4 linked regions of the Homo sapiens genome follow. The protein of the gene in region 2 purifies or fractionates together with the protein of the main gene of each other region. This does not show direct contact. Each region holds a gene or a part of one and is shown on either strand. Other genes may lie near its edges.

The links.
Region 1: the proteins of JADE2 (region 2) and AARSD1 purify together in Homo sapiens (affinity purification with mass spectrometry, with the first as the bait; 3 studies listed by BioGRID). This does not show direct contact.
Region 3: the proteins of JADE2 (region 2) and MYO9A purify together in Homo sapiens (affinity purification with mass spectrometry; 3 studies listed by BioGRID and IntAct, with this or other methods). This does not show direct contact.
Region 4: the proteins of JADE2 (region 2) and ING3 purify together in Homo sapiens (affinity purification with mass spectrometry; 4 studies listed by BioGRID and IntAct, with this or other methods). This does not show direct contact.

The regions. Positions count from the first base shown.
Region 1 is NC_000017.11:42,954,439-42,961,463, forward strand, and holds part of AARSD1 (alanyl-tRNA editing protein Aarsd1), read right to left. Parts: intron 6,914-7,025; coding exon 6,754-6,913; intron 2,758-6,753; coding exon 2,700-2,757; intron 2,123-2,699; coding exon 1,966-2,122; intron 1,883-1,965; coding exon 1,766-1,882; intron 1,535-1,765; coding exon 1,404-1,534; intron 787-1,403; coding exon 720-786; intron 530-719; coding exon 438-529; intron 1-437. Other genes in the region: PTGES3L-AARSD1 protein, read right to left, coding at 438-529, 720-786, 1,404-1,534, 1,766-1,882, 1,966-2,122, 2,700-2,757, 6,754-6,913. UniProt on the Homo sapiens protein: Functions in trans to edit the amino acid moiety from incorrectly charged tRNA(Ala).
Region 2 is NC_000005.10:134,528,650-134,535,674, reverse strand, and holds part of JADE2 (E3 ubiquitin-protein ligase Jade-2), read right to left. Parts: intron 3,792-7,025; exon of another isoform or gene 2,130-3,791; coding exon of another isoform or gene 2,085-2,129; intron 1-2,084. UniProt on the Homo sapiens protein: Scaffold subunit of some HBO1 complexes, which have a histone H4 acetyltransferase activity. Acts as an E3 ubiquitin-protein ligase mediating the ubiquitination and subsequent proteasomal degradation of target protein histone demethylase KDM1A.
Region 3 is NC_000015.10:72,045,148-72,052,172, forward strand, and holds part of MYO9A (unconventional myosin-IXa), read right to left. Parts: intron 1,488-7,025; 5' UTR 1,417-1,487; coding exon 577-1,416; intron 1-576. UniProt on the Homo sapiens protein: Myosins are actin-based motor molecules with ATPase activity. Unconventional myosins serve in intracellular movements. Regulates Rho by stimulating it's GTPase activity in neurons.
Region 4 is NC_000007.14:120,960,763-120,967,787, reverse strand, and holds part of ING3 (inhibitor of growth protein 3), read right to left. Parts: intron 3,047-7,025; coding exon 2,950-3,046; intron 2,533-2,949; exon of another isoform or gene 2,317-2,532; intron 2,086-2,316; exon of another isoform or gene 1,955-2,085; intron 1,163-1,954; coding exon 1,091-1,162; intron 260-1,090; coding exon 140-259; intron 1-139. UniProt on the Homo sapiens protein: Component of the NuA4 histone acetyltransferase (HAT) complex which is involved in transcriptional activation of select genes principally by acetylation of nucleosomal histones H4 and H2A.

The sequences.
Region 1 (7,025 bases), on a different chromosome or scaffold from region 2:
TTTTTATATTTTTGAGATGGGGTCTCACTCTGTTGGTCCAGGCCGGAGTGCTGTGGCGTGATCTCCACTCACCACAACCTCTGCCTCCCGGGTTCAAGTGATTCTCCTGCCTCAGCCTCCTGAGTAGCTGGGACTACAGGCGCGTACTACCATGCCTAGCTAATTTTTGTACTTTTAGTAGAGAAGGGGTTTCACCATGCTGGCCAGGCTGGTTTCGAACTCCTGACCTTGTGATCCACCCGCCTCAGCCTCCCAAAGTGCTGGGATTACAGGCGTGAGCCACCGCGCCCGGCCAGTAACATATTTCTTAGGATCTACTCAACCTTGAGAATACCAGTGAGCAATCCACCTCCCACTGTACATTGCATATAGAGAAGACACTGAGCCCTAAGCCCAACACAGTTCCCCTTCCTTGTGTCCAGCTCCTAATTTCTCACCTGTGTAATATGACCACACCTCCCCAGTCTGGACTGTTCCTGAGGCTATGGGCAATGTGCACAGCCAGGTCTCTGAGCAGATTCAGGTTATTCTGAAATGGATATGGTAACTCAGTAGATAAATGGAAAGGATAACAATAGAGAGTATCAGCTTCCCTCCACCTCATTCTCCCCTCACTCCCACTTTGACAAACTACACATCTGTTTAGGCAGAAGACCAAGTCTGCAGAGCCTATCCTAGGCAGGGCCCATGCCCTCTCTACCCTCCATGGAATAAATCACCTTCTGCAGGATCTTGGTGGAGTTCTGGAGCTTTTTCACTGCTTCCACATGATCCTCTGCTCCACACCTGAAAGAGAAAGGTCAGAGGAGACCTGCGCAGCTTCCCAGTCGTTTCTGATGTTGGGGACATAAATCAATAATTTCCTTCTTGCTATGGTGCCTCCCTGCAGTCAGGGACCAGGAGATATTCTGAGGAGGTCTCTTAGGCAACTGGGAGAAAACATACAAAGGAATTAACCACTTTTCGTGGTTCTGATTTACTATCCAAAGCACTTGATCTTTTTTTTTTTTTTTTTTTTGAGACAGAGTCTTGCTCTATCGCCCAGGCTGGAGTGCAGTGGAACGATCTTGGCTCACTGCAAGCTCCACCTCCCGGGTTCACGCCATTCTCCTGCCTCAGCCTCTCGAGTAGCTGGGACTACAGGCGCCCACCACCATGCCTGGCTAAGTTCTTTTTGTATTTTTAGTAGAGACGGGGTTTCACGGTGTTAGCCAGGAAGGTCTTGATCTCCTGACCTCGTGATCCGCCCACCTCGGCCTCCCAAAGTGCTGGGATTACAGATGTGGGCCACCACGCCTGGCCGCACTTTATCATTTACGATTGCATCTTATCTCCCAGAGGTAAGAGATTATGTCGAAAATCTCAGAAATGGGAGGTAATCGAAGGTACTGAAACAGGCATACTTAAGCAGAGCAGTCAGTGCTTTTTCAGTTCCATGACTTCTCTCCATCCACTTCAGCACCCGGTTCCCAGACAGAAATATCAGGTTGGTTCTGTTCTTTTTCCCCTTCTCAGTGCCCAGAATCTTAATGACCTACATGAGGCAAGGGGGTAACACACACACACACGTGTGCACATGCATAAACCACAGCGGATCCTAGAACCTGAAGGCAGGAGAAACCTATCTGTTCCTCAGCTCTGAAACAGTGAAGGGGAGATTTCACTTAGGACTCCTCGATTATCCCCCTCTCCCACTCCCAGCCCCATGTGATCCCCTCTCCCCCAATCCCTCTTCTCAGCCACTCCACAGCCGTTCCTCACTTACCTGAAGGTCACTGAGATTGCTCACATGGGTCCCACAGCACATGTTGGAATCAACGCCCTCGATGTTAACAACCCGAATGGGCCCAGCATGATCATCAGGCAAACCCCGGCCACTCACCTGGACTCAAGGAGAGGGGAGGGACTGTCTGAATCTGATGAGGAATCATTCCGCAGAAACCATCCCTCTGGCTCTACCCTTACCTGCTCCACCTCAGGATCATCCAGGCTCAGTTCTCGGACATTCACAGGCAGCCGATCTCTGATTTTTTCATTGACGCTCTGCTCAATGGCAGCTACTTGCTCTGCAGTCATAGAGGGGGTGTCCAGCTCAATCGCACTCCGAAATCTCCCTAACTCCCTGTCAGAAGTACAGTGGCCACAGATAACATATCTTACTGAACAAGAAAAAGCTGAAAGCTTTTCCTCTAAAAACTGGAACAAGCATACCCTCTCACCACTTTTTTTTTTTTTTTTTTTTTTTTTGAGACGGAGTCTCGCTCTGTCGCCCAGGCTGGAGTGCAGTGGCGCGATCTCGGCTCACTGCAAGCTCCGCCTCCCGGGTTCACGCCATTCACCTGCCTCAGCCTCCCGAGTAGCTGGGACTACAGGCGCCCGCCACCACGCCCGGCTAATTTTTTGTATTTTTAGTAGAGACGGGGTTTCACCGTGTTAGCCAGGATGGTCTCGATCTCCTGACCTCGTGATCCGCCCGCCTCGGCCTCCCAAAGTGCTGGGATTACAAGCGTGAGCCACTGCGCCTGGCCTTTTTTTTTTTTTTTTTTAAGACAAGCTCGCTGTCACCCATGCTGCCATTTGGTGGCAATCACAGCTCACCACAGCCTTAATCTCCCCGGCTCAAGCAATTCTCCCACCTCCGCCTCCCTCCCAGTGCTGGGATGGGCCTGCCTACAGTTAGTCTTATGCCTCCCACTCACCATGATGTTGTCTTCAGCTTAAATAGATGGTCAGCAACTGCCGTGATGAGATGCTGCCCTAAGCAAAGAGAGCCAGAGACAGGAGAAAAGTGAGAAGCCTACATACTCCCACAATGATAAAATATGAGCTACAATGATAAAAGCACAGAAATTCTCCTTGTTGAAGACCTGCTAAGCACTGGGTAATACACTTTAGATACTTTATTGAAAATCACAATGAGAATTCTGCAAGAGGCCTTATGATACCATTTCACAGATGAGGAAACTGAAGCCTAGAGAGATCAAATAACTTGCCATGGCAATGTAACTTATAAGGGGCTGGACTTGAACTTAACTTCCTTTTTTTTTTTTTTTTTTTTTTTTTGAGACAGTCTCATTCTGTTGCCCAGGCTGGAGTGCAGGGGCTCACTGCAGCCTCCGCCTCCCAGGATCAAGCAATTCTCGTGCCTCAGCCTCCTGAGTTGCTGGGATTATAGACGTGCATCACCGTGCCCGGCTAATTTTTCTACTTTTAGTAGAGATGGGGTTTCACCACGTTGGCCAAGCTGGTCTTGAACTCTTGACCTCAAGTGATCCACCTGCCTTGGCCTCCCAAAATGCTGGGATTACAGGTGTGAGCCACTGTGCCCAGTGAACTTAAGTTCCAATATGCAGCATTCATCCATTCAACAAGTATTTATTGAGTACCTACCAAATGCAAGGCACAGGGCTTGACATAAGAGATACAGCAGCATCCCTGATTGACAAGAGTGATGATGAGGAGAAAGAAGAGGAAGAGGAGGAGGAAGAAAAGGAGAAAGAGGAGGAACTATCAAGGAAGAGGGAACAAGACAGCCAAAGGCCTTAAGGAAGAAAGAAGTAGCGCATGTCAAAGGAATCCAGAGATGACAAGCAAGGCCAGGATGCAGCCAGCAAGAGGTCAAGGGACACCAGATGAGGCTACAGCAGTAGACAAGAGCCACCCAGATACAGCTTGTATGCCATGGTAAAAAGTTTGGCTTTACACGAAGACCTACAGGAAGCCTCTGAAGAGCTTTAAGCAGAGGAGTGACATAATATTTTCATTTTTTAAAATTTATTTCAGTCAGGCGCGGTGGCTCACTCCTGTAATCCCAGCACTTTGAGAGGCCAAGGCAAGTGGATCATGAGGTCAAGAGTTTGAGACCAGCCTGAAACAACGTGGTGAAACCTCGTCTCTACTAAAAATACAAAAATTAGCCGGGTGTGGTGGCATGCACCTGTAATCCCAGCTACTCAGGAGGCTGAGTTGCTTGAATCCCAGGGGTGGAAGTTGCAGTGAGCCAAGATTGCACCACGGCACTCCAGCCTGGGCAACAAAGTGAGACTCTGTCTCAAAAAAAAATAAAAATAACAAATAAAATTAAATAAAATTTATTTCATTTTACATATTTATTTTTATTTATTTTTGTATTTATTTATTTATTTATTTTGAGATGGAGTATCGCTCTGTCACCCAGGCTGGAGTGCAGTGGTGCAATCTCAGCTCACTGCAACCTCTGCCTCTCGGGTTCAAGCGATTCTCCTGCCTCAGCCTCCCAAGTAGCTGGGATTACAGGTGCACGCCACCATGCCTAATTTTTGTACTTTTAGTAGAGTCAGGGTTTCACCATGTTGACCAGGTTGGTCTCAAACTCCTGACCTCAGGTGATCTGCCCACCTCAGCTTCCCAAAGTGCCTGGGATTACAGGCATGAGCCACCACGCTCAGTCTGTTTTTATTTTTCTTGTTTACATTTCCACTTTAACTTATATTTATTTATGCCAGGTGCGGTGGCTCAAGCCTGTAATCCCAGCACTTTGGGAGGCCGAGGCGAGCAGATCACAAGGTCAGGAGTTCAAGACCAGCCTGGCCAACATGGTGAACCCCCATCTCTACTAAAAATACAAAAATTAGCCGGATGTGGTGGTGCGTGCCCGTAATCCCAGCTACTCAGGAGGCTGAGGCAGGAGAATCACCCGAACCCAGTAGGCAGAGGTTGCAGTGAGCCAAGACTGCACCACTGCACTCCAGCCTGGGTGACAGAGCGAGACTTTGTCTCAAAAAAAAAAAAAAAAAAAAAAAGTTATATTTACTTTTTTGAGACGGAGTCTTGCTCTGTTGCCCAGGCTGGCGTGCAGTGGTGCCATCTCAGCTCACTGCCACCTCTGGCTCCTGGGTTCAAGCAATTCTGCCTCAGCCTCCTGAGTGGCTGGGACTACAGGCATGCACCACCACGCCCAGCTAATTTTTGTGTTTTTAGTAGAGACAGGGTTTCACAATGTTGGCCAGGCTGGTCTCGAACTCCTGGCCTCAAATGCCTGACCTCATGATCTGTCCGACTTGGCCTCCCAAAATGCTGGGATTACAGGCGTGAGCCATCGCGAGCAGCCTACATTTATTTTCTGAGACAGGGTTTCACTATCTTGCTCAGGCTGGTATGGAATTCCTAGCCTCAAGCGATCTTCCCGTGTCAGCCTCCCAGAGTGCTAGGACTACAGCAGTGAGCCACAGTGCCCAGCCATTTCTCTTTTCTTTTTTTTTTTTTGAGATGGAGTCTCGCTCTGTCGCCAGGCTGGAGTGCAGTGGCGCGATCTCGGCTCACTGCAACCTCCACCTCCCAGGTTAAAGCGATTCTCCTGTGTCAGCCTCCTGAGCAGCTAGGACTACAGGCGCGCATCACCATGCCTGGCTAATTTTTGTATTTTTAGTAGAGACAGGGTTTCATCATGTTGGCCAGGATGGTCTCGATCTCTTAACTTCATGATCTGCCCACCTCGGTCTCCCAAAGTGCTGGGATTACAGGCGTGAGCCACCGCACCTGGCTGCCATATTTTCATTTTTAAGATTGTTCAGCTGGGCGCAGTGGCTCCCGCCTGTAATCTCAGCACATTGAGAAGCCGAGGCGGGCGGATCACGAGGTCTGGAGTTCGAGACCAGCCTGGCCAACATGGTGAAACACCGTCTCTACTAAAAATACAAAAATTAGCCAGGCATGGTGGCACGCACCTGTTATCCCAGCTACTCGGGAGGCCAAGGCAAGAGGATCACTTGAGCCCGGGAGGTGAGGTTGCAGTGAGCCGAGATCATGCCATTGCACTCCAGCCTGGGCGACAGAGCGAGACTCCAACTCAAAAAAAAAAAGACTGTTCTGGTGCTATGTGGAGAATGGGCTACAGAGGAGCCAGACTGAATGTGGGGCAATCAATTAGGAAACTGTTAGAGAGGTCCAGGGGGAAGACAGCTAGGAGCTGGGACTAGGATGACAGTGACTGTGGAAAGAAGTGGACAGACATTTAGAAAACAAACCAACATGCTGGGGGGGTGTGGCTCATGCCTGTACTTTGCGGGGTCAAGGCAGGCGGATCATCTGAGGTCAGGAGTTCAAGACCAGCCTGACCAATATGGTGAAACACCGTCTCTATTAAAAATACAAAATTAGCTGGGCATGGTGGTGGGGGCCTATAATCCCAGCTACTCGGGAGGCTGAGGCAGGAGAATCGCTTGAACCCGAGAGGCAGAGGTTGCAGTGAGCCGAGATCGCACCATTGCACTCCAGCCTGGGTGACAGAGCGAAACTCTGTGTCAAAAAAAAAAAAAAAAAAGAAAAGAAACCAACAGGACTCAGTGATTGGCTGGCTGTCTATGCCTGAAGAGGTATCTGGAATGACTTCCAGAACTTGAGTGACTAGGTGCATGCTGATGCCCTGCGATGAACACACAGGATGCTAATGAAAGACCAGGAGGGAGGGGAAGGCTTTTTGTTTCATTTTGGACATTTTGAGTTTGAAAAGGCTGTGAGACATCCAGATGGAGATATCGAGTGGGAAGTTGATAATACCTAAATCCAGCAGTTATTCTAATACTTTTTTTTACTTCAGTTGTTCATGTTGCTGTTATAACATTTAGGATATCCTTCCTGAATTACAGCTGATTCTGAATAGTCTGTCTTTTCCAAAAGGTTAACTCCTAGAGAACCCAAACTACGTCTCAGTCATCACAGCATCCCCATACATGGCAACTGCTCCGGTGTTATGTCCCCCATCCCAGCCTTTACCTGAATGCTGCTGCATGTGGTCAAACCTCCGCTCCCAATCTACCCGGACCAGAACCTGGCTTCCTGGATCCAGGGGTGTCTGGGTGAAATGATCAGCCTGTTCCCCACGGCGAGTCACTCTCAGCACAGAGATGTCATTGATTGTACCACGGTCATCAGGCTGGTGGAAATAAGTAAACGTAATCAATGGCAAGGCAGGGCTCACCCTAACTTCTAGGTACAAAGACCCTCTAGGGTGAGAGACCCAGAATCTGGGCTCCCTAAGGGAGAGG
Region 2 (7,025 bases):
GATTCTAAAAGGCTGCATCTCCCACCTCCTGAGCCCAGAGCCCTTGGTTGAGCAAGGGTCTAACCAAAGCTGTTGTAGAGGGAGAGGACATGGGGGCATCAGCAAGCCCAAACTGAATAGTGACCATGACCTGCCCAGTCCCAGCTGCCACCCAAGGACACTCAGGCCCACCACTGCAAAGGCCTCCTGAGCCACAAGTCCTCTAGGGAGGTAGGTGGGTAGAGGACAGCAAACAAGACTGATTCTTCCAGGAGGACCATGCTGTCGGAAGTTAGGGACAAGCCAGCACAGAAAACACTGAGGGCCTAGTCCTGCGAGTGGTGGTCAGCAGTGTACAGAAGCGGGGGAGAGGCGGGGGACACTCCAGGCTGGGTCCCTGAGACACATCAGGCCCAGGGTGACTGGTCCTGGGCTGGGCTACCCTGCCCTCCTACTCCCCACCATCCTTCCCAGATAAACGTACAAATAAACTCTACCTCAACTGCAACATCTAACTTCAAGGTATTAAGGACAACTCTCACATAGGGGCCTCATACTGAGCTCACGCGGAGTCTTCCTTTATCCACATCATCTCCTGTTCCTAACCAGGTGAGCTGTGAGCTCCATTTACAAGTGAGGCCAGCACCTTGTCCTGCTAGTAAGTGGCTGAGATGGGACTGAATCCATGAGGTCTGATCCCCAGGCGCATGCTGAGCTGCCTTTTTACCCTCCATCAGCTCCTGGCTGCTGAAAGTGTTTTCCCACCACTGTTTCCTATAATCCTCACGAGTCCCAGGTGGCAGAGCCTGCTCTCATCCCCTTGGAGGGGAGCACAGCAGGTGATGCGTTAACCTGCTCTGGGTCTTACAGCTCGCCTGTGGCTGAGTCCTAATGTGGGAACACATTGGGGGCTCAGGGTTCAGAGCACGCTCCCCTGTGTTCCCTGACTGACTCCCCACAGCAAAGGATAGGGAGGGAGTCTGTGTCAGTAGAGAGAAAGCCCCACTGCCCAGCCCATCTGCACCTAACTCCAGCTGCCCCCAACCCCAGTCCATTCCTGCTGAGCCCTGGGATGCCACCATCTTACTGCAGCCCTGCAGAGACTAGTGAGCATCTGCTCTCTAAGGTGGGTGTGAACACCCAGATCTCTCAGCTGACCAGGATGGCCCTCCTGCCTTGGACTTGATCTTAGCCGGGAGCTTCTCTCTACCCCAGTGCCCACCACCAGCAGGACCAGGATGGCAGGAAGGCTCATTGAGGCTGCCTGCCGCCCAGCTTCAAAGATGCCGGTAAAGTGCCCTCCAGAGGCTGAGGTTCCAAGGGACACTGGTGGTGCAAGCAGCACAAACGCAGGAACAAGGATGGCTAAGACTGCTAAGCGCTCACAGTAGCGGGAGGGGGTTCCACAGGGTCCACAGGGACCTCAACGAGTCCCTAGAGCAGCCCTTTGTTATAGGCATATATCATGGCTGCTTCCCTTTTGCAGAGGAGGAAACTGAAGCTCAGAGGTTAAGTGACCTGCCCAAGATGTCAGTGACTGTATTTGATTCAGGAGACCGTGCTCTTGACCTTCTGACTTCTCCGTCTCTGCGCAGCAGAGTACAAACAGCTCAGCAACCCACAGCTGCCACCCTCACTGCCTTCCAGAGTCTGCGTGTCAAGGGTGCGACACCTGTAATCCCAGCACTTTGGGAGGCCGGGGCTGGAGGATTTCTTGAGCCCAAGAGATCGAGACCAGCCTGGGGAACGTAGGGGGACTCATCTCTACAAAAAATTTAAAAATTAGCCAGTTGTAGTGGCACATGCCTGAGGTCCTAGCTATGCAGGAGGCTGAGGTGAGAGGATAGCTTGAGTCAGGGAGGTCAAGGCTGCAGTGAGCCATGATCGTGCCACTGCACGCCAGCCTTGGCGACAGAGTAAGACCTTATCTCAAAAAAAAAAAAAAAAAAAAAAAAAAAAGAGAGAGTGTGACAAAGGCTGACTGACAGAATCCTGACTCCTGATTCTAGCCTACGTCTTCCTCAGCTCAGCCCAGCCCAGCGCAACCCAGCTTTGTCCTGACATCGGTGGGTGGAGTGGGGGGGAGGTGCTAAAAGTGCACCCACCCATTTTCTTTTGCAATCCTGTAAGCGAATTCCATTTCTCTTCATTTCCTGCAAAGAAGGTACTTCCGAGCCAGCATCTCCCACAGTATTAAAAGCAGAAGTTGTTGATGGGTTCAAATCCTAGCTCCTCTCCTCATAGACCAGGGACCTTGGGAAAGACATACCTCCCAGAGGAGATAAACTGGAACTGGCTTTTTACATAAATGTCCTTAATTTAAAATGTTGGCAACTGAGTCAGAATTTTTACAACACTTTGAAAGGGCCAAACTAAACACATCTGTGGGCCAGAATCAGCTGGTGAGAATAAATAAGAACAGTGTAAAGCCCTCAGCACAGTGGCTAGAGATCCATATGGGTGCCAGATAGTAATACCATGGCAGCCTTGGACCAGGTCGGAAAGTCCTGGAGGAGGGGCTCCTAAAAAAGAGGCAGTGACCCTATACAGTAAGGAAGGTGCCCTCGAAAGGACTCCTTGACTGCCCAGAGACCAACAGGTGACAGCATGCAGACCTACACCCCGCACCAAGCCAATTCCCCATCTAACCCTGTCCTCCACAAAACACCCCAGAGTGCCTAGGGATTATTCTGGGTCAGGGCTGTCCCATGGGAGGCTATTATTAAGGGAGCAGATTTTGTGGTGGCTTAATTGTTATAACAACTAGGCTTGAGAAGGAAGCCACTGTTTTGTGAGTGCAGCTTCTTTCCTTTAAACCAAGTCTTCCAAAGGCCTCCTTGCTCCAGCGAGCTCCCACTGTCACAGTGGCTAATGAGGCCTGGGACCGCACTATGTCAGCTTTTTGCCCCATGGATCACCCTCCTCGCAACCTCAGCAAGAGGGACAGGGAGGACTCCTTTCCCAAAGCTGAAATCCAGGACTGCAAACACACTTGGGGGGTGGAGGTGCTTAGATGTGATCTTGGCCTCTGGTTTTTCCTTTCCACTGGCTTCCCCCATCTCCCCCAAAGCAAGGTCTGCTGTGGGAGAAGATTTCAGTGTCACAAGGCACTTGCTTTCGAGGACAGAAAGTGCTCCCGAAATCCTACCTATAAAGGAGACTTTAGGAAAGAAAAGATCTCATTTTCCTGCCATTTGCACTAGTCTATTGGCACCTCTCATGCAACCCCCAGCATGGAGACACAGGTAGGAAGCTCTCCTTCAAAGTGTGGGTGTCGTAGAGTCCCCTCAATGAAGCAAAAGCCCACAGCCTCTCTGTATCCTCGGCCCCACCAAGTCCACTAGGCTTTGCCTCCAGAACACACCCACTTTCTTCCTACTATCACCACACTGGTCCAAGCCAATCTCATCTCTTGCCTGAACCACTTGTTCATCTCCCAGCTTCCAGTATCAATTCACCCATGTCCAGGCTCCACACAGCTGCCAGAGTGATGTTTAAAAAGCATAAATCAGTCGGGGTGCGGTGACTCACACCTGTAATCCCAGCACTTATGGAGGCCAAAGCAGGTGGCTCACTTGAGCTTAGGAGTTCAAGATCAGTCTGGGCAACATGGCAAATCCCCGACTCTATGAAAAATACAAAAGTTAGCTGGGCATGGTGGCGTGTGCCTGTGGTCCCAGCTGCTGAAGGGGCTGAAGTGGGAGGCCAGGAGGTTGAGGTTGCAGTGAGCTGTGATTATGCTACTGCACTCCAGCCTGGGTGACAGAGTGACACCCTGTCTCAAAAAAAAAAAAAAAAAAAAAAAAAAAAAAGCCAGGCACGGTGGCTCATCCTTATATTCCCAGCACTTTGGGAGACCAAAGTGGGTGGATCACTTGAGAGGTCAGGAATTCGAGACCAGCCTGGCTAATGTGGTGAAACCCCGTCTCTACTAAAAATACAAAAATTAGCCAGGCTTAGTGGCGGAAGCCTGTAATCTCAGCTACTCTGGAGGCTGAGGCAAGAGAATTGCTTGAACCTGGGAGACAGAGGTTGCAGTGAGCCGAGATTGTGCCATTGCCCTCCAGCCTGGACAACAGAGTGGGACTCTGTCTCAAAAAAAAAAAGGTATAAATCAGAAGCTGGACATGGTGATATGCACCTGTAGTTCCAGCTACTTGGGAGGTAGAGGCAGGAGGATCACTTGGGCCCAGGAGTTCAAGGCAAGCCCGGGCAACACAGCAAGACCCCATCTCTAAAAAAAATTAGAACAAAATAAAAATTTTAAAAGGCATAAATCAGATCATATCATGCCCCTAAGAAAATCTTTCAAAGGCTTCATAGATCAAAAGACAAAGCCTAAGCTCCTGACCACAAGACCCTACACAATCTGGCCCCTGCCACCTGGACAGCTTCATACTGACCACTATCCCCTTCCTCACCACCTTCTAGCCATGCTGGGCTCCTTTCATTCCTTTGAACAAGCCAAATATTCCATACTTCGAGCCCTGTGCACACGCTGTACTCCACTCTGTTTGGAATATTCTTCTATGTGGTCTATGCATGTCTGACTTTTCAACCTTCAGGTTTAAGCTTCAGTGTGGCCCATGTCAGTCTATGCTCATCACACTATCTGAAGAAATTCACCACCCAGTGTCCACGGAATACCCATCCCAGCTGTGCTTGTTGAGCTACTTGTTGCATGTCGTTCTCCTTGGGAATGTATATTCCATGAAGAGTAAGGAGCATTCCATTTAGACTCCAGCCAGAACCCCAGTGACATACTAGGGAGTGCTGAGTGTGCTCTCGCTCCCTCCCCCAAGAAGTGTCGGGACCACACAGTCCAGCTGGCCTGCCTGTGGCTTGCAGGAACAAACACCCTGGCCCAAGATTTCGCCCTTGTTTTCACAGCCTGCCTTCCCCGTCTTAACCTCACACATTTTCCAGGAGGCTTTATTTGGTTGGGCTCCTGGCTAATGATCAATGTCAACTCAGTAATAGGGCAGCAATTTGGTGGCAGATGTTTTCTTGGCAGCACTAGTGGTTGGCCTTAGTGAGGGCCTCAGGTCTGGACTTAAAACACCAATGCCCAATGCCAGCCCCCTTTAAAGACCTCTCTGCAAATAAACTCAAATAAACACCCTGGGCCTCCATTAACGCCCTTCCAGCTGACCCTGGGAACAGTGGGCCTTTCAGGCCTGCCACTGCAGCCACTCCCTGGGCAGTTAAAACACCCCAACCTGGCCTCCAGCCTCTCCTCTCCAGGGGCCACTAGGCCTGGCCTGCCTGCCACCACACAGCAGGATTTCGTCCTCTTCTTTAAAAAAAGGGGAAAAAAGGGCTTTCAAGCAGGCAATTTACCATTCCAGACACAATCTTTCAAAGAGAAACAAAAACTCTCCCTGTCTGAGGCAGACCGCTAAGGCGTGTGTGTAATAAGATGCTAATACAATTTAATGATATTTCGGCTGGAAAACCTGTCCTCAGAGCCTCCTTGTGTTGGGAAGGCCAGACATTCAGAAAACAAGAGCTGCACACTCTTAAACCGCTTTAAACCGGGGTCACAGCCCCACTCTTTCCTATCTCTCATTAACTTTAATGCCTTCTCAGGGACAGTAATTGCAGTTACAAAAATGATTTTGTATACAGAGTAGAGGGCTGCTGCCTGGGATCCTCCAGTCGGCTTCCTGGACCTGCTTCTCCAAGTCTAGAGGAGCCTGAACCCTCCTGCAACACCAGCCATTGCCTGTCTGCAACTTCAAGTGTCCCAGAGGGGACTCAGCTCCCCTTGAAGACGCTGCCACACCCACCCTCCAGACCAGTTCTGGGGACGTACCAAGGGGATGGTGGGAGAATGAAAAGGCTCTGTCTACTTTGTTCTTCAGAACCTTCTCACCCTACTCTTTGCCCCAGAGAGGGCAGAGCTCCGTCTACTCGCTCCCATATCGGCTGCCTATTGGCACCTGCAGGATCCTTCTGATCCCTTCTGCAGAGAAGCGAGCTGGCTCTCTGGCCTAGCCTAAAGGTGAGAGATCAAAGGTCCAAGCTGCATCGGGGACCCTCCCCAGGTATAATAAGGATGACTAATACTAATCACGTGCTTATCACATGCCTGCTTTGGGCTTAGTCTTTTTTAGGTAATCACTTATTCTATACATCCACTATGAGATAGGTACTGTTATTAATCCCATTTGCAGAAAGTGCTCCTTGTAACAGAAGGAACTGAGGTATAGAGCCATTATGACAGTTGGTAACTGCACAGCCAGGATTCAAACCTAGGCTGTCTGACTCCAGAAGGTGTACCCCATCTCCAGTGGGCTGAAGTGTACAGGCCTACAAGTTCCAGGGTATGGGTATTCTAGATTCCTATGGGCTGTCTGAAAGGAGCTTTGAGCAGACCTACAATTGTAAGCTTTTGAGCCACATGGTAAGGGTCCTATCTGGAGGACAGGGCAAGCCAGGGGTATCCTGCTCCCCAACTCTGACCTGTTCTCCCCATCAGAGAACCTAAAGGGAGAACTGTGAGGTCCCAAAAAGCCTGCTGCATGTGCCATGAAGAATTTGGACTAGAAGCCTCTTACCTGTGTCATGAGCATAAGACAACTGCCTTCCTGTTAAGAGGAACACTAGGTTAGAGCCAGAACACCCTGCCTCCCAACCTCAAGGATGTGGGGGTCAGTGTCCAGGGCCTATACAGTGTCAATACTCCGTGGTGCATCTAGGACCTGGGGACTGGCAGTCCCACCTCACCAGTCCATGAAAGCTAAGTGGAGATTTCTGACAACCTCTTGGACCACTGTTACTGGCCCTTTAGCCAGGCAATTTAGGGAAAGGAAAAGCATTTTGGACGGGAAAACATTCTGGAAACATTTGCTGCATCCTGAGCCCAAACAACTCTATCCTTAAACACTTCATCTCCAAAAGTGATGGGGGGACCCTTGGCCAAACAATTTCAAAACCAATATTCACTGCAAGTCCTGCTGCCTGGGGCGAGGACTTCCCTCTGTGAGGCATTTGCTGCAGAACCAAATGCTTTTCCACTCAAAACAACAGCCAACAGCACTTGG
Region 3 (7,025 bases), on a different chromosome or scaffold from region 2:
GGCAGTGTGCCCAGAATAGCAAGAACAGTATTTCTATAGCTTCTCAGCCTTTTGGCTAAGATCAAGTACAGTTATGTTTTTATAGTTTAATATCTGAAATGTCTTCTATCCAAAGACAATTTTTTTTTTTTTTGAGATGGATTTTCGCTCTTGTTGCCCAGGCTAGAGTGCAATGGCATGATCTCAGCTCACCACAACCTCTGCCTCCCAGGTTCAAACAATTCTCCTGCCTCAGCCTCCCGAGTAGCTAGGATTACAGGCATGCACCACCACGCCTGGCTAATTTTTTTTGTATTTTTAGTAGAGACAGGTTTCTCCATGTTGGTCAGGCTGGTCTGGAACTCCTGACCTCAGGTGATCCACCCACCTAGGCCTCCCAAAGTGCTGGGATTACAGGCATGAGCCATTGCGCCCAGCCCTAAATGAGTTTTTGGAGCTGGGAGATGGAACAGTATCTTGCTTGATCTACTCCACACATCGACCTGGTATTGCAGTACCTCCAGGAATGGTACACCCCCCCACCTCAAAGGATAAAAATCAAAATTAAAATCAAAAATAAGATTTCTATATATTTACCTCAAGTACTGGTCCAGCTCCAAGAATAATCTGTTCTACTCCACTGGCAAATCCTTTCTGACTGAGAGCAGTAAGGTGGTGAATAAGAAAGTTTGTGCTTTGAGTCTTCCCAGAACCACTCTCTCCTGAAATCACGATGCACTGATTCTTTTTGCGCTGAAGCATGGCATGATAAGCTACATCAGCCACAGCATAAATGTGGGGCTCAAGTTTTCCCAGTTGGTGGTTATCATACATTTTGACATATTTGGGGTTATAAATAGGAAGAAACTTGAATGGGTTAATAACTATTAGAATACTGCCAACATAGGTATAAATTTTTTCATGCTTAAAGCGATTTCGTAGGTTTTCTAAGAGAGTTTTCTCATTCAAATCAGGTAAACTACATAAATCATCAAAGTCTTTCTGTTGAGGCTGTGGAAGAAAACCCCGTTCCATCATCCTGCGACGTTCTTCTGTTACCCGTAGCCATGACTGCAGGCTACCATAATGGATTGATCCATCAAGGTTTTTCTCTCTCAGAAGGAAGCGGTAGTCCTCTCCACTTAAGCGATTTTCCAGAGCCATTCGGGGCCACAGCATCATTCGCTGAACTGGACAATCTGTTGGATTGAGAATCCATTCTTCTCCACCAAATTCCTTTACCTCTGCTAGAACATAACATTTTGTTTTGTCAAGATGAAGTTTGTTTATAAGAGACTCAATCACCTCAGCAGCTGTGGAGTTTTTTCTGGCAGGAATCGGACAGTAGATTGTCCCTTCTGAAATAGCCCCAGGATATATCCGTAATGTATGTTCATTATCTTCAAAGCGTCGTCTTCCTCCATCATTTATATTCATATTGGATCCTGTCCCATCAGCATGGATAGTATATGTTCAAAGTCGTGCAAACCATTTTCTTGGTAAAATAACTGTAACATAAAAGATGCAAAATATTTAGAAGTAAATACACATTGCTTTCTGATGCTCAAGAAAGAAAAGCTTAACAAGCATGTTGATTACATCTTCTAAAACACAAAATACTAACTCTTGTCTTAGCACAGCAACAGTTTCATTGAGACCACATAATATTAAGTTTCACTGTCCAAATCTAGGCACTTTCTAAAATAGTAACTTGCCAAAAAAAACATATATTTCAATGTTTTATTATACAAAAATCCAAAGAGTACAAAGAAAAATTATTTTTCCCCTGCTGTCTCAAATGTTTGTAAGGAACTTGGGATTAGAACCAAGTTCTTTCCTTATACTTAACAAAGACTGGATTAAGACAGAATAACCATGCAAATCTAATTGCCCTGTACCCAAAATTTCTTAAGGATAAAGCAAAAACAAGAAAGCATCCCAACAATGGAGCAAAAATTTTGTAAAATTTGTTAAAAACAGCAAGAAGATAGATAAACATAGAAATTACATAAAACCAAGAAAATGATGAGAGAAACCAACTAAGGAGATAGACATATATTTTCAAGGAATTCTAGGCTCTGACTCACTCCCTCCCACAAGGTGGGAAGGAGAAGGGAGTTTGGCAAGAGTGACAAAAGAATCCTGCCCCTGACTTGCTAGGCAAATTTAACACAATTATACAACTAGGCACCACTACAAATTTTATTCAGCTTCCCTTTTTCCTTCAATGCTACCATTATATCTTTTTACCTAACCTTATTTATTGCATTCCTTACAAGTATTCTGCATTTTCTTCCCATCTTCTCGAACCTCGTATACAGTATATTACACTTCTAGAAGAATGATTTCAACTTTTATACCTCACTGAGAAAATAGTGATTTCCTTCAAATGGCTTCTCCAACTCAAAATTTATTCCTATCTTTACCTCATCTATCTTATTCCATTCCTGTCTTCTACTGAGAAAATATGCCCCACACACTTTCCAGGGCTGATAAAACCTGTTTCTTATCTTCATTAGTTAGTTATATGCCCCCAAAAAACTACTCTCATGTGTCATCAATATTTACCTTATTTATTTCATCCTTTAACATATAAGGATGATGTGCTATTAAAAAAATAATAAGAAGAAATACTTTCAGTTACTTCCTTTTTTTTTTTTTTTTTTTTTGAGACAGGGTCTTGTTCTGTCACCCAGGCTAGAGTACAGCGGCATGATCTTGGCTCACTGCACCCTCCATCACCCGGGCTCAGGTGATCCTCTCACCTCAACCTGGCTGGGACTACAGGTGTGCGCCACCTTGCCTGGCTAATTTTTGTATTTTTAGTAGAGATGGGGTTTCACCATGTTGCCCAGGGTACTATCTATCCTCTCATACTACTACATATTTGTCAAAGTCTTCTAATCAAGAAACTATTTTTTCCTGTTTGCCTAGATGGTCTTTCAAACACAGAGATTAATACAAAACATATAAAAAAAACCCAGCCATATAGGCCAGGAGTGGTGGCTCATATCTGTAATCTCAACACTTTGGGAAGCCAAGGCGGGCGGATCACCTGAGGTCAGGAGTTCGAGATCAGCCTGGCCAACATGGTGAAACCCTGTCTGTACTAAAAATACAAAATTAGCCAGGCATGGTGGCACGTCCCTGTAATCCCAGCTACTCAGGGGCCTGAGGCAGGAGAATCACTTGAACCCGGGAGGCAGAGGTTACAGTGAGCTGAGGTCGCACCCCTACACTCCAGCCTGGGTGACAGAATGAGACTGTCTCAAAAAAAAAAAAAATTAAAAAAGAAATAAACTAGTGAGGAAAGGACAAACTATTCACTGTGGTACTGGTTCAATTGCTAATCTGAGTTGGAGTGAAGAAAATTAACAGTCCTATCTCATAGCATACTGAAAATAGATTCCATCTATGGATCTGTACCTATCAATCTGTTCTGGGCTCTATAGTCTGTTCCATAGGTCTATTTTTCCACCCCTGAACCTCTGTTAATTACTACAGTCCTATAATAAATTTTGGTATCTGAAGGGCACATTACCTTAATGTGTTGTTCTTTACAAATTTTACCTTGGCTATTTACACTACCATAAAAATGTTTAAGTTTGCATGTTTACTATCGTGAAAAAAAACCTTTTCAGATTTTAATACTGCATTGACTTTACAGATTAATATTGGACAGAACTGACATCTAATTGACTCTTCTCATTCATGAACACCATGCTGTTGGCTTTTAAAAATTACAACTATATTTTTCACTTCTAAAGTTTTTGTCATTTTCAAATCCACCTCATCTTTTTTCCGCCGATTTACATTTCAAAATTATTTATACTTAAGGGCTATTACTCCTTTTCTTTTTGAAAACCCTCAGTATGTAATTTAATATTTTTCAGACTAACACTGAAATGTCATCCAGACGGAACTGCTCTTATGGTTATTTCATATCTTCCTTAGCATGAGATGAGTTCATATATTTGAGAATTTAGCTTTACAAGTGCACTTTTGATGGAACTTCTTTTGTTTTTCATACAAACACTTACTGAGAACATGTTTACTACTTTTTTAAGAGAACTACAGTATCATAAATATATTTTTAAAAATTAAAAATTTTGGTATTAAATGATCAATTGATATTCAAATTTCCAAATTTCCTCAGTTATCTCATAAATATTTTTCTTACAGATAGTCTAGCTGGAGATTCTGCTCTGCAATAACAGTGAGGATATACTCTGAGTTACCAGGTTCCTAGTTGTATAGCTATGTTTGCTTTCCTGAATCCCTAAGTGTTTGCTTCATATACGCTATGGCATCTGGCAGCAGTCAGCAGCAAATCTTCTTACAGCCAGGGAGGCTGTGACCTGTACCACTCCAGGAGATGTACTAAGTTAAGGGGTCCCCAACCTCTGGGCCATGGACCAGTGCCAGTCCATGGCCTGTCAGAAACTGGGCCGCACAGCAGAAGATGAGCAGCAGGCAAGTAAGCATTACTGCCTGGGCTCTGCCTCCTGTCAGATCGTCAGCAGCATGAGATTGTCATAGAAGCATTAAGCACTATTGTGAACTGCATATGCAAGGGATCTAAACTGCATGCTCCTTATGAGAATCTAACTAATGCCAGAGAATCTAACTAATCATCTAATACCTGATGATCTGAGGCAGAATAGTTTCATCCCAAAACCATCCCCTACTACCCCATCTGTGGAAAAATTTTCATCTATGAAACCAGTCCCTGGTGCCAAAAAGGTTAAAGACCACTGTACTAAGTAACTACAATCTAATCCCTAAAGTTGTATAATATGGCAGCCCTGGAAGTAAACTTAGAAACATCTTTTTTAACAGGAGTCCTATCTTGGACCACTGTTTCCAACAATAAGCCCAACTCTAATTACACTTCCCCATTACTTCAAAGCAGCCAAAATCACACCTGCTCCTTCCTGAAACAGAAGTGTTTACCTTTTTTGAGTCCTAGTTTTGTCAGTTTGGTTTTATCTTTGTTATTTTATCAATTACTGCTTTGTGGGTTTTTTTGTTTTGTTTTTTTTTTTACAAAAAGGAGGGTTTGTCTCAAAATACCACTCAGAAATCCATCTTGATCACAAGCCAGTCCTTACTAAACAGCTTGGAAAATCTGTACTTGCAAATCCGAGACATGAGCTTTCATCAAAATCATCTGGGGAGCTTTTTCAAAACGTACATTACCAGCCGGGTGCGGTGGCTCACACCTGTAATCCCAGCACTTTGGGAGGCCGAGGCGGATAGATCACGAGGTCAGGAGATCAGGACCATCCTGGCTAACATGGTGAAACCCCATCTCTACTGAAAATACAAAAATTAGCCAGGCATGGTGGTGGGCACCTGCAGCCCCAGCTACTCCGGAGGCTGAGGCAGGAGAATGGCGTGGACCCTGGAGGCAGAGCTTGCAGTGAGCCAAGATCATGCCACTGCACTCCAGCCTGGGTGACAGAGCAAGACTCCGTCTCTAAATAAATAAATAAATAAATAAACAAACAAACAAACAAAATTTTTTTTTAAATGTACATTACCAGGCTCAACAATAGTTATGAGTTGAGGAAATGCAGGTAATTCTGTTATTGCTGGTCCAGAAAATAGTATTTGAAAATCACCATATTCCCAAATATTTGGGAACTCACTTTCTACTCCCTTACCACTCTTCCCACATAGCAAGCTACTTGACAATGCTCCGGAGAAGTCACAAAATTCCACAGAGTTGGTAATCCAAAGGTCTTTCCTCATTCTTCATTTTAACACACCACACTATGGCATGACTAAAGCAGCCAATTTCTAGTTCTTGAAAGTGTACTCACATAGTTATTTTTCTTGTAGTCTTCCTGATAGTCTTGCTCTTTTTCTGACTCACTCCTACAGCTCCTTTTCCATTAACTCACTTTATTTTGTTGTTGTTTTGTTTTGTTTTTGTATTTGTTTTTGTTTTATAGAGCCAGGGTCTGTCTCTGTCATGCAGGCTGGAGTACAATGGCACAATCATGGCTCACTGCAGCCTCAACCTTCTGGACTCAAGTGATCCTCCTGCCTCAGTCTCCCGAGTAGCTGGGACTGTAAGTGCATGCCACCGATGGCAGCAGCGGCCCATCTATAGCGGCCACTGCCATGATACCAGCTGCAGTGGGGGAGGTGCAGCCAGGACTGCGTGCTCCATGGAGGCAGCAGAAGCCAGGAACAGGTGGGAACCCTGCCACCTTCTGAGTTGACAGGGCAGGAGTTTCGTGCTCCCTAGGTGCAGCTGCGGCCACCTGCCCAGGTGGGCTGCAGACCCAGGCATCACTGTGCTCTTGGGGGATGGGAGCAGGCAGGAGCCCCACCCTCCCAGGCACAGCTGCAGCCGCCCAAGCTGCAGCTGCAGACCCAGGCATGTCTGCACTCTCAGAGGCCCAGGAAGGCCCCCCGCCCAGTCCCTGCAGGCTCAGAGGTGTTTGCTCCCACTGCCTGGCCTCTCCTCACTCCCAGCACCCACTCCAATCTCAGAGAAAGGTTGGGTCCGAGACTGGGCACTGTCACAGCCTGGCCAAGTGTGCACACGCTCCAGATAGCACTGATACACCAGCCCCCTGCCACCTTGGCCCCCTCTAAACTTTGGGTGCCTACAAACACTAGAGGGAGGCTGAGGGGGTACTGAGGGCAGCTCAGTACCTGTAGGCACCCCCTGTCACAAACAGCCTGGGCACCATGAACAGCAGGAGGAGGCAGGCAGGCTCCTGGGCAAAAGGAGGCAGGTCCCTGGTGAAACCCCACCTTCAAGCCAGGGAAGGCCTGAAGCCTGGGGACCAGGCTTTCCATTGGCACCCGATGACCAGAGTGGGAACTTGTGGTGCTTTCTCCAGGCTCACCCATGGTTGTCAATGAACCAATCAGTACACACACCCTCCCTGCTGAGACCTATAAAAGCCTGAACTCAGCCAGACTTGGGGAGACAACCACCTGCCAGTTGCAGAGAAAAGGTGCCCACCCCAGGGTCTCCTCTCTGCCGGGAGTTGAGAAGATGATGGGACAACCAGCTGCAGGGAGAA
Region 4 (7,025 bases), on a different chromosome or scaffold from region 2:
TTTTCCTTTTTCTTCTTTCTCCATATGTATACTTTAACCAGGTAAAGAAACTGTATGATTCATTAATCCTGAAACACTTTATTTCCCCTTACTCTAACACAAACAAACAAAGCAATCATATTTAAGAAAATTAACTTACCTAGTGTATTTTCCTTAGAGGCATCTGACGTAAGGGTGGATAGAAGAGCTTCAGATTTAAATTTCTTTTCAGGAATATGATCTGTTGTCGTATGGTGAGAAGTTGGATTATATTTCCTTTCTAAATATAAATAAAAAATTCATGTGTTTTTAAACTTTAGAGAACTATGGACAAGGCATAATACTTATATCCAGTTAAAATGTGAAACAGTATGATCTGGGTTCCTCATAAAATACAGAACATGATGTTTCCTCAGAAGGCAGGACAAGCAGAACTCTGTGTCACATGTTTATTAAGAGTAGACTTCTCCACCATTTAAAAAACTTCTAGCAAAGTACTAAAGATAACCCAAGATACACCATGGGCTCACATACAATGTGAGGGAAATTTTGTTTTCAAAACACAATCTACCACTTAAAATAGTTTCCCACCAAATTGATGTGTCAAAAGATGTACTGATATAGTCATTTTTTGACTGTTACCAACCAGCCAGCCAGTCATCTAACTAACAATTCATCCACTCACTGACTTACCAACCATTCAGACTTAATTATATGCCAAACATTAGGTTAAGCACTGGAGAAGCAAGGATGAAAAAGACAAAGGGCCTATTACAAAATAGCTTATTGTTTGGCTCAGTTGAAAAGCTCCCTAAGGAGAATGCTCAGTTGAAAAGCTCCCTAAGGAGAATCAGGTATGTGTATGAAGGGAATATATGCTATTAGTACTATACATTCTCCTTCTACGCATTTAAGAGAAAACAGAATACTCATTTCCGAATCACATATGCTCCCCCCAAGGAAAAAGACAAGTCTGCCAGTACTTGCAATGAAAAAAAAAGAAGGGATTTATTTCTCAATTGGTTGTGTAGAGTTAAAAAAAGAGAACATATAGGTGATATAATAAGGTTTTCATTGTTTTTAAAACTTAGCTGCACTACACCAAACTTACTTTCCACTGGAGTATGTGAATGAGCATGGTGATTGTTCACTGGCTGTGAAGGAGTGTCTAATTCCAAAGATCCTAAAAGAAGAGAGGCACAGAGATACACCACCATTAAATGTCACCGCAGAACTTCACATGTCACTCAACTACAGGCAATGAGTTCCCTTACCCAGCAGAGGACTAGCAAGTTCTGATGCATATGCCTGTATTTATTTTAGCCAGACATGTTAGAGGATCACCACTGTCCATCCCACACTGAGTTATCCTCTCTCTAAACAATAAGTTATCCTTTTCCCAATATTAATCTTAAGTACAAAATGGCTCAAGGCATACTCGTGTCTAATTAGGGAATTCACCATAGTGGGTGCCATATAAATGGATGAATGGACATTGTAATCTCATTACTGGTAAGAGTCAACCTAGTTTTACTGAGTTGAAGACCTTTTAATGGGAGATTCTGAAGTTCTACGTGATGGGGGACATTACTATATGAAAAAAATTATTTGATCATTAAAATGACATTATGATAATAAAGACTTCCTAAAAGAAGTTAGGGATTTTGTTCGCAAAAAGTGAGGAATAGAATCTCTAACACCAAGCTTTAAAATACCTCTAAATACATTTTTCTGGGTTTATTTTTGATCCCTTGAGATGAAATTATGGCAGGGCACAGGGTGGAGCAGTTTTTATAACTTGATCCAATTTTGTTTCATATGTCTGTGTCCTTAGAGAGGATGCTTTATTAACCTTCCTGCAGTACTGAATAGGCATGAATTATCATTACTCACAGCTATCATCAGCATTTTTAAAAAATCAAAGCAGATACAGAATTTTTAATTTTGTCTCAAAATACTTATTATCTTTATATAGGGTTCCTCCAGAAGAAAAGTATCACAAATAAATAGGATGATTATCTAAAGTGATGGATCTACTTTTGAACACAAAAATGCAACTATGGATACCAAGACAGATCTGTGATTGGCTTCCCTAGCTGACTTCTAGTGAGTAGAGAGATACATAGATTGGCACTGTAAAGAAATCTTTCATCTGTGTGTAGAAACAGGTACATATTCTTACTGTTGAAATGCACCAAGAAAAAGAAGGTTTGTAAGTTTTAATTAAATTCTAGTAGAAATTAGCCATAATATTAATTTGGTTCAATTAACATCTAGTGAGTGCCTACTCTACACCTAGTACCACACTAACTGCTTTTATGTACATTACCTATTTAGGTTGAAGAAATGCTAAATTAGTTAAGGAAACAGTGCTCATGCTTCCATTTTTGGGAAGTCACACCAAAGAAGTGACAGGGGTAAGTTATAGCAGGAGATCAAATAGAGCCTTGCAAAGAAATATCAAAATGGTTTCTTGCTGCTAAGGGAAAGAAGAAAACACTTCTTTAAGAAAAAGAGGTAGTGTTATGAAACCAATGTGAGTCTTTTTCAGTATATGCAGTTAAGGAAAAGCCATAAAGTAATTCTTAAGAAGAGAAACTAACAACTTTCCTCAAAGCTTAAGTGTATAAAGAGGCAGAGTAAAGTCAACACACTTAATGCAAGATGGTTAATTTGTCTCCCGATGGTTACATTTCTTTAAATTTGTTCTTACCACTCAACTTACTAGTATATGTGGATATAAAATGATTTAATATGTTGTTTCATAAAGAGTGAGTGGATGATATCCTATATTATCTCTCTCAGTATGCATGACCCAAACATTTCCAACTGTTAGGGTCCAAGCTATCTGGCCTGGATGCCACCATCCATTGAAGGGCAGGATTTCAAAAGCCTCTGTGGGACAAGGTCTTCTCAGCGATTTGCACATGTACTGTCCAATATTGATGGAAAACTGTAAATTTTACTTACGCCTCTCTAATATTTCTGTAATTCCAGCATTATCAGCTTCCAGCTCCATTTTAAACTTAGCCAGTTCCTGATCCAGCTTTCTCAAGTGTCGATCTACCTGTTTCAAAGAAGATCAAAGATAACCACCAAAATTTGGGACACTGTTAAAGTGTCAGCTTAATGAGGAAACCTAAATTTTTGTTTCTTTTAGTGAATCTGCTTAGTATCCTTGAGCAAGTCAATTAATCTATGCCTCAGAGGTTTTTAATCTATAAAATGAGGGTGTTAGGCTAAATAATCTCCCAAGTCTCCTTCAATAAATTTTAAGTTCTAAGACCCAGACTCTCAACTTGTTAGGAAATGTTCTATACTCCATTTTCAGAAGTCAGGACATGAAAATTAAAGCAAAACTGATTAGGGATTAGAGAATGGGAGGAGGGGATGGTGGAGGCTGGTCACTTTTCATAATATGCCCTGTGATTACTTAGAGCCTAATCTCCTCCTGCTTATAAGGCCATCATCCACACTGTCATACGATAAAAGCTATTATTTAGAATGATGAAAGATCCTCAGTCTACAAAGAAGTTCCTATATTCTATACATCTATTACTCTAAGGCATGAGAGTGAATCATAATGCTTGTAAACATTTATGTGAAGAGGTGAAACAAAAGGGATTGTTAGCCAGAAAACTCCATTCCTCAAAGGATCTGGTTAAAATTATTTTATTTATAATACTATTTCCCTAGTTAACTTGGCAAAATTTTATTTTGTCACTGAGAGATCTTTTGACTAATTTCAGAAAATTATATGACACTTCAAACTAACAAAAAATGTCTTAATGTATTTTTTAAACTTAATATTAAATATTTTAATATTTTTTCAAACTCATTACTTTGAAGTGAAACCAAAAAATACACAAATTCTTTGAAAAATATTCATGTCACATTATTGATAACATCCTTTTCTAAGTCTAGTTTCCCACTGGATTACTGCTAGAATTAGAAATAACTTTCTTACAGATATCAACATGTGCTATGATACTCTACCAGGGCAACATTTTAAGTAAGGTTTAGAATTAAATAATGTGTAACTAACATGAGGAAGAAGGGGAGAAAGGTAGCAAAACACAATGTGCATGGGTTAGATGCCTATGAAGAGGAGGTAATGTGCTTGACGCATCAGATGACCTATCTTTTCTAGCCCTCGATCTGATCTTTTGAAGTTATTACTGTCTCTACTTTATAGGTGAAGAAATTAAGGCTCGGAAGGGTTACTTAAGTAATATGCCCAAGGTCATATAGCTAATGCATTACAGAAACCAAATTTAACTTTATTTGTAACAAATTCTGCTTTGCCATTTACCTGACATTGACCTCTGAACTTTCTGCATGCAGAAAACAACTGTTTTTTTTTTGAAAAACATTCTTCAGAATAATATAACTCAAGTATAAAAACTAGTAATATTGTCCTATTATTTGTATTTTATATATTAACAACAATCATTAGGGTGTTGGTTTGTGATTTTTTCAAAAACTGAAAGCCAGTTTTCCTTCTACCTTTACACACACATTACTTTTCAGAGTTCTAGAATATTTAAAAACCTATAACATCACATATTATGGATACTTGCTCCTATTCAAAGAATCTGCAGGTAATTGAGCATCCTTTAATGGAACTTCCTTTCCAATAATAGTGTGAACACAGACGTCTGTTATTTGAGCATACCTCTTTCATTGTCAAAATTTAATCTCAAGGGAAATCAGAAAAAATATTCATATTTAAGTTCCAAGACCACTAATGCAACGAAAACACTCCATTGCTTTTTGTACCTACAATTATACTAATAATAAATATTGAGCTATTACGTGCTTGGTGCTGGATTAAATGGAGGATATATGAAGAATGGAAGAGAATCATTGCCTTCATAGGAATTAGAATTTAGCTGACAAATCAAGATTTATATATGATTTTTAATATAATAAGGGATAAAAATATAGTCTAGATGTCACAAATAAGCAACAGTTCAAAAAGAGTCAGAAGTTGTACATAAAAAAGTAACACTGGTAGACACGAAGGAGGTACGAATTAAGACGGTGAAGATGGATTGTATTCAAATAGAAGGAAAAAAGGAATCACAATAAAAAATGTAGAGACAGAAAGACAAACAGTATGCTTAGAGAAAAACAAAGTATGATGTAGCGTGTAATATGTATATAAAGCACAGTGAGCAAGAATGTTAGGTTGAGGGGGTAGTGTTAGGGTGAGATAAAGACCTTTCTTTTTCATACCATACACCTTGCCCTAACTCACTTCACCTCTGCATTTAAGGATTGTTTCATTTTATTAAATATATTATTGATAAAGTTCACTACATATGAAAATGTTAAAAATAATGACAAGACTTTCAATACTAGATAGCTCAGAAAAGGCACTAGAACCTAAAGGGTTAATAACTCTAAAAACCAAATTCATAGTTAAAATAAACAAAGACAGAAAAGCCTTAACCACTTGTGGTAGGCATCTTTATAAGACGGCTTCCAATCATTCTTACTTCCTCATATGTAAAAGAGATTATGACCTGATTAATATTATAAGCAATTATTAGGCAATGAGCATTATTTTTCTTCTATTTACTACTGCTGTACTAAATCAAATTAGAAGTTGGAAAGTCCCATTGACCACAAGAATTAACTTAAGCTATAAAGCACTAGGATATTTAAACAATATTAAACAGCCATAATAAGAGCTGTGAACTTGCCTGAAATCCATCATGTGCATTCCCTCAACCTACATGATTCTGAACGGTTACAGCACCTCTTCTAGCTGATCACCATGTTGTCCCCACAGGCATCAAGCAAAGCAAGGATGTAAGTTACCTCACCCTTCCACAAACATCTGCTTTCATAAGACTGATTTACAATAGTAAAGAGGGTACTGATCCAATTGAGAGATTTTCCATTAGCCACAGATTCCTAAAACAGGGCTAACCACAGAGTCTAATTATTTCTTTTTTTCCCAGTTAATGTCAACAAGTGCTATAAACAAAGTTTCCTTGCCCTATAATCCCAAATCATATTCTACAACCCCAAATCATAACAGCTTTAAGTTTAAACTCCTATAATTTTTCTAGCCTCTTTAAAGACAAAGGATATTCTACCAACATTACTTGTTAACACACTCATGATCATAGCAAATTTAAGTCATACTTGGCCCCTCTGCACAAAACAAACAAAAAATCCTTCATCCTATAATATTTGCATAGAGTTGTAATCTTTGACTCTTTCTTTTTTGACTCTCTGGTTTTCTAATATTCACATTTAAAGTGTATCACTAATGGACCCAAACAAAACTAAATACAGCTTTTTTAAAGTCTCTACATGATCTACTGCTTCCAATACAATCAATTTATAAAATTTAGATGTCTAGCTTGCCCTATCGGAAGAGGCAATCAAGTCTGTTACATTCTAAGTTGAAATAGACAGCAGTAAGTTAAATTTCTAACCATGAAAAGGTCTAGTAATAGCGAGTAAAGAGGGTAAATTGGGGAAGAAGAAGAAACCATGATAGCAAAGTATTTCTCAGATAACAGGTCATGAAAATGATTCTTTATATCTCTAAATTAGATTTAAACTAGATGAAAATGTGACCTATTGTTATGCTGAAACAAATACTTGAGAGGCCTTAGCATATAACTCTGTCTAATCATCTTCCTGAAAGACAATAAGGACAGGACAGAAATCAAAAGGTCAAACTCACATATTTCCTTAATTAGAGTATCAGATGAAAACTCTCAAATTTATAGGTAAAATGTGCATCTGAAATATAACCATCTCAGGAACAGGCCAGGATATAAAAAAAGAAGCAAGTTCAAGGGTATTGAGCACTGCAAGAGACTGCTAAAATCATTCAAGCATTAACTAAAAGCTCAAATTTTATCAGGGTATGTATAAATCAACTTTATTAGGTATTGCAATCCAATACATCCTTATGACAGTGACATCTGGCTGAGAAACACAAATAAGTATTTAACAACTATTTATGAGTATCATGCTTCTAGAACAAAACTATTTTAACAGGATAGATTTTTGTGTGTGTT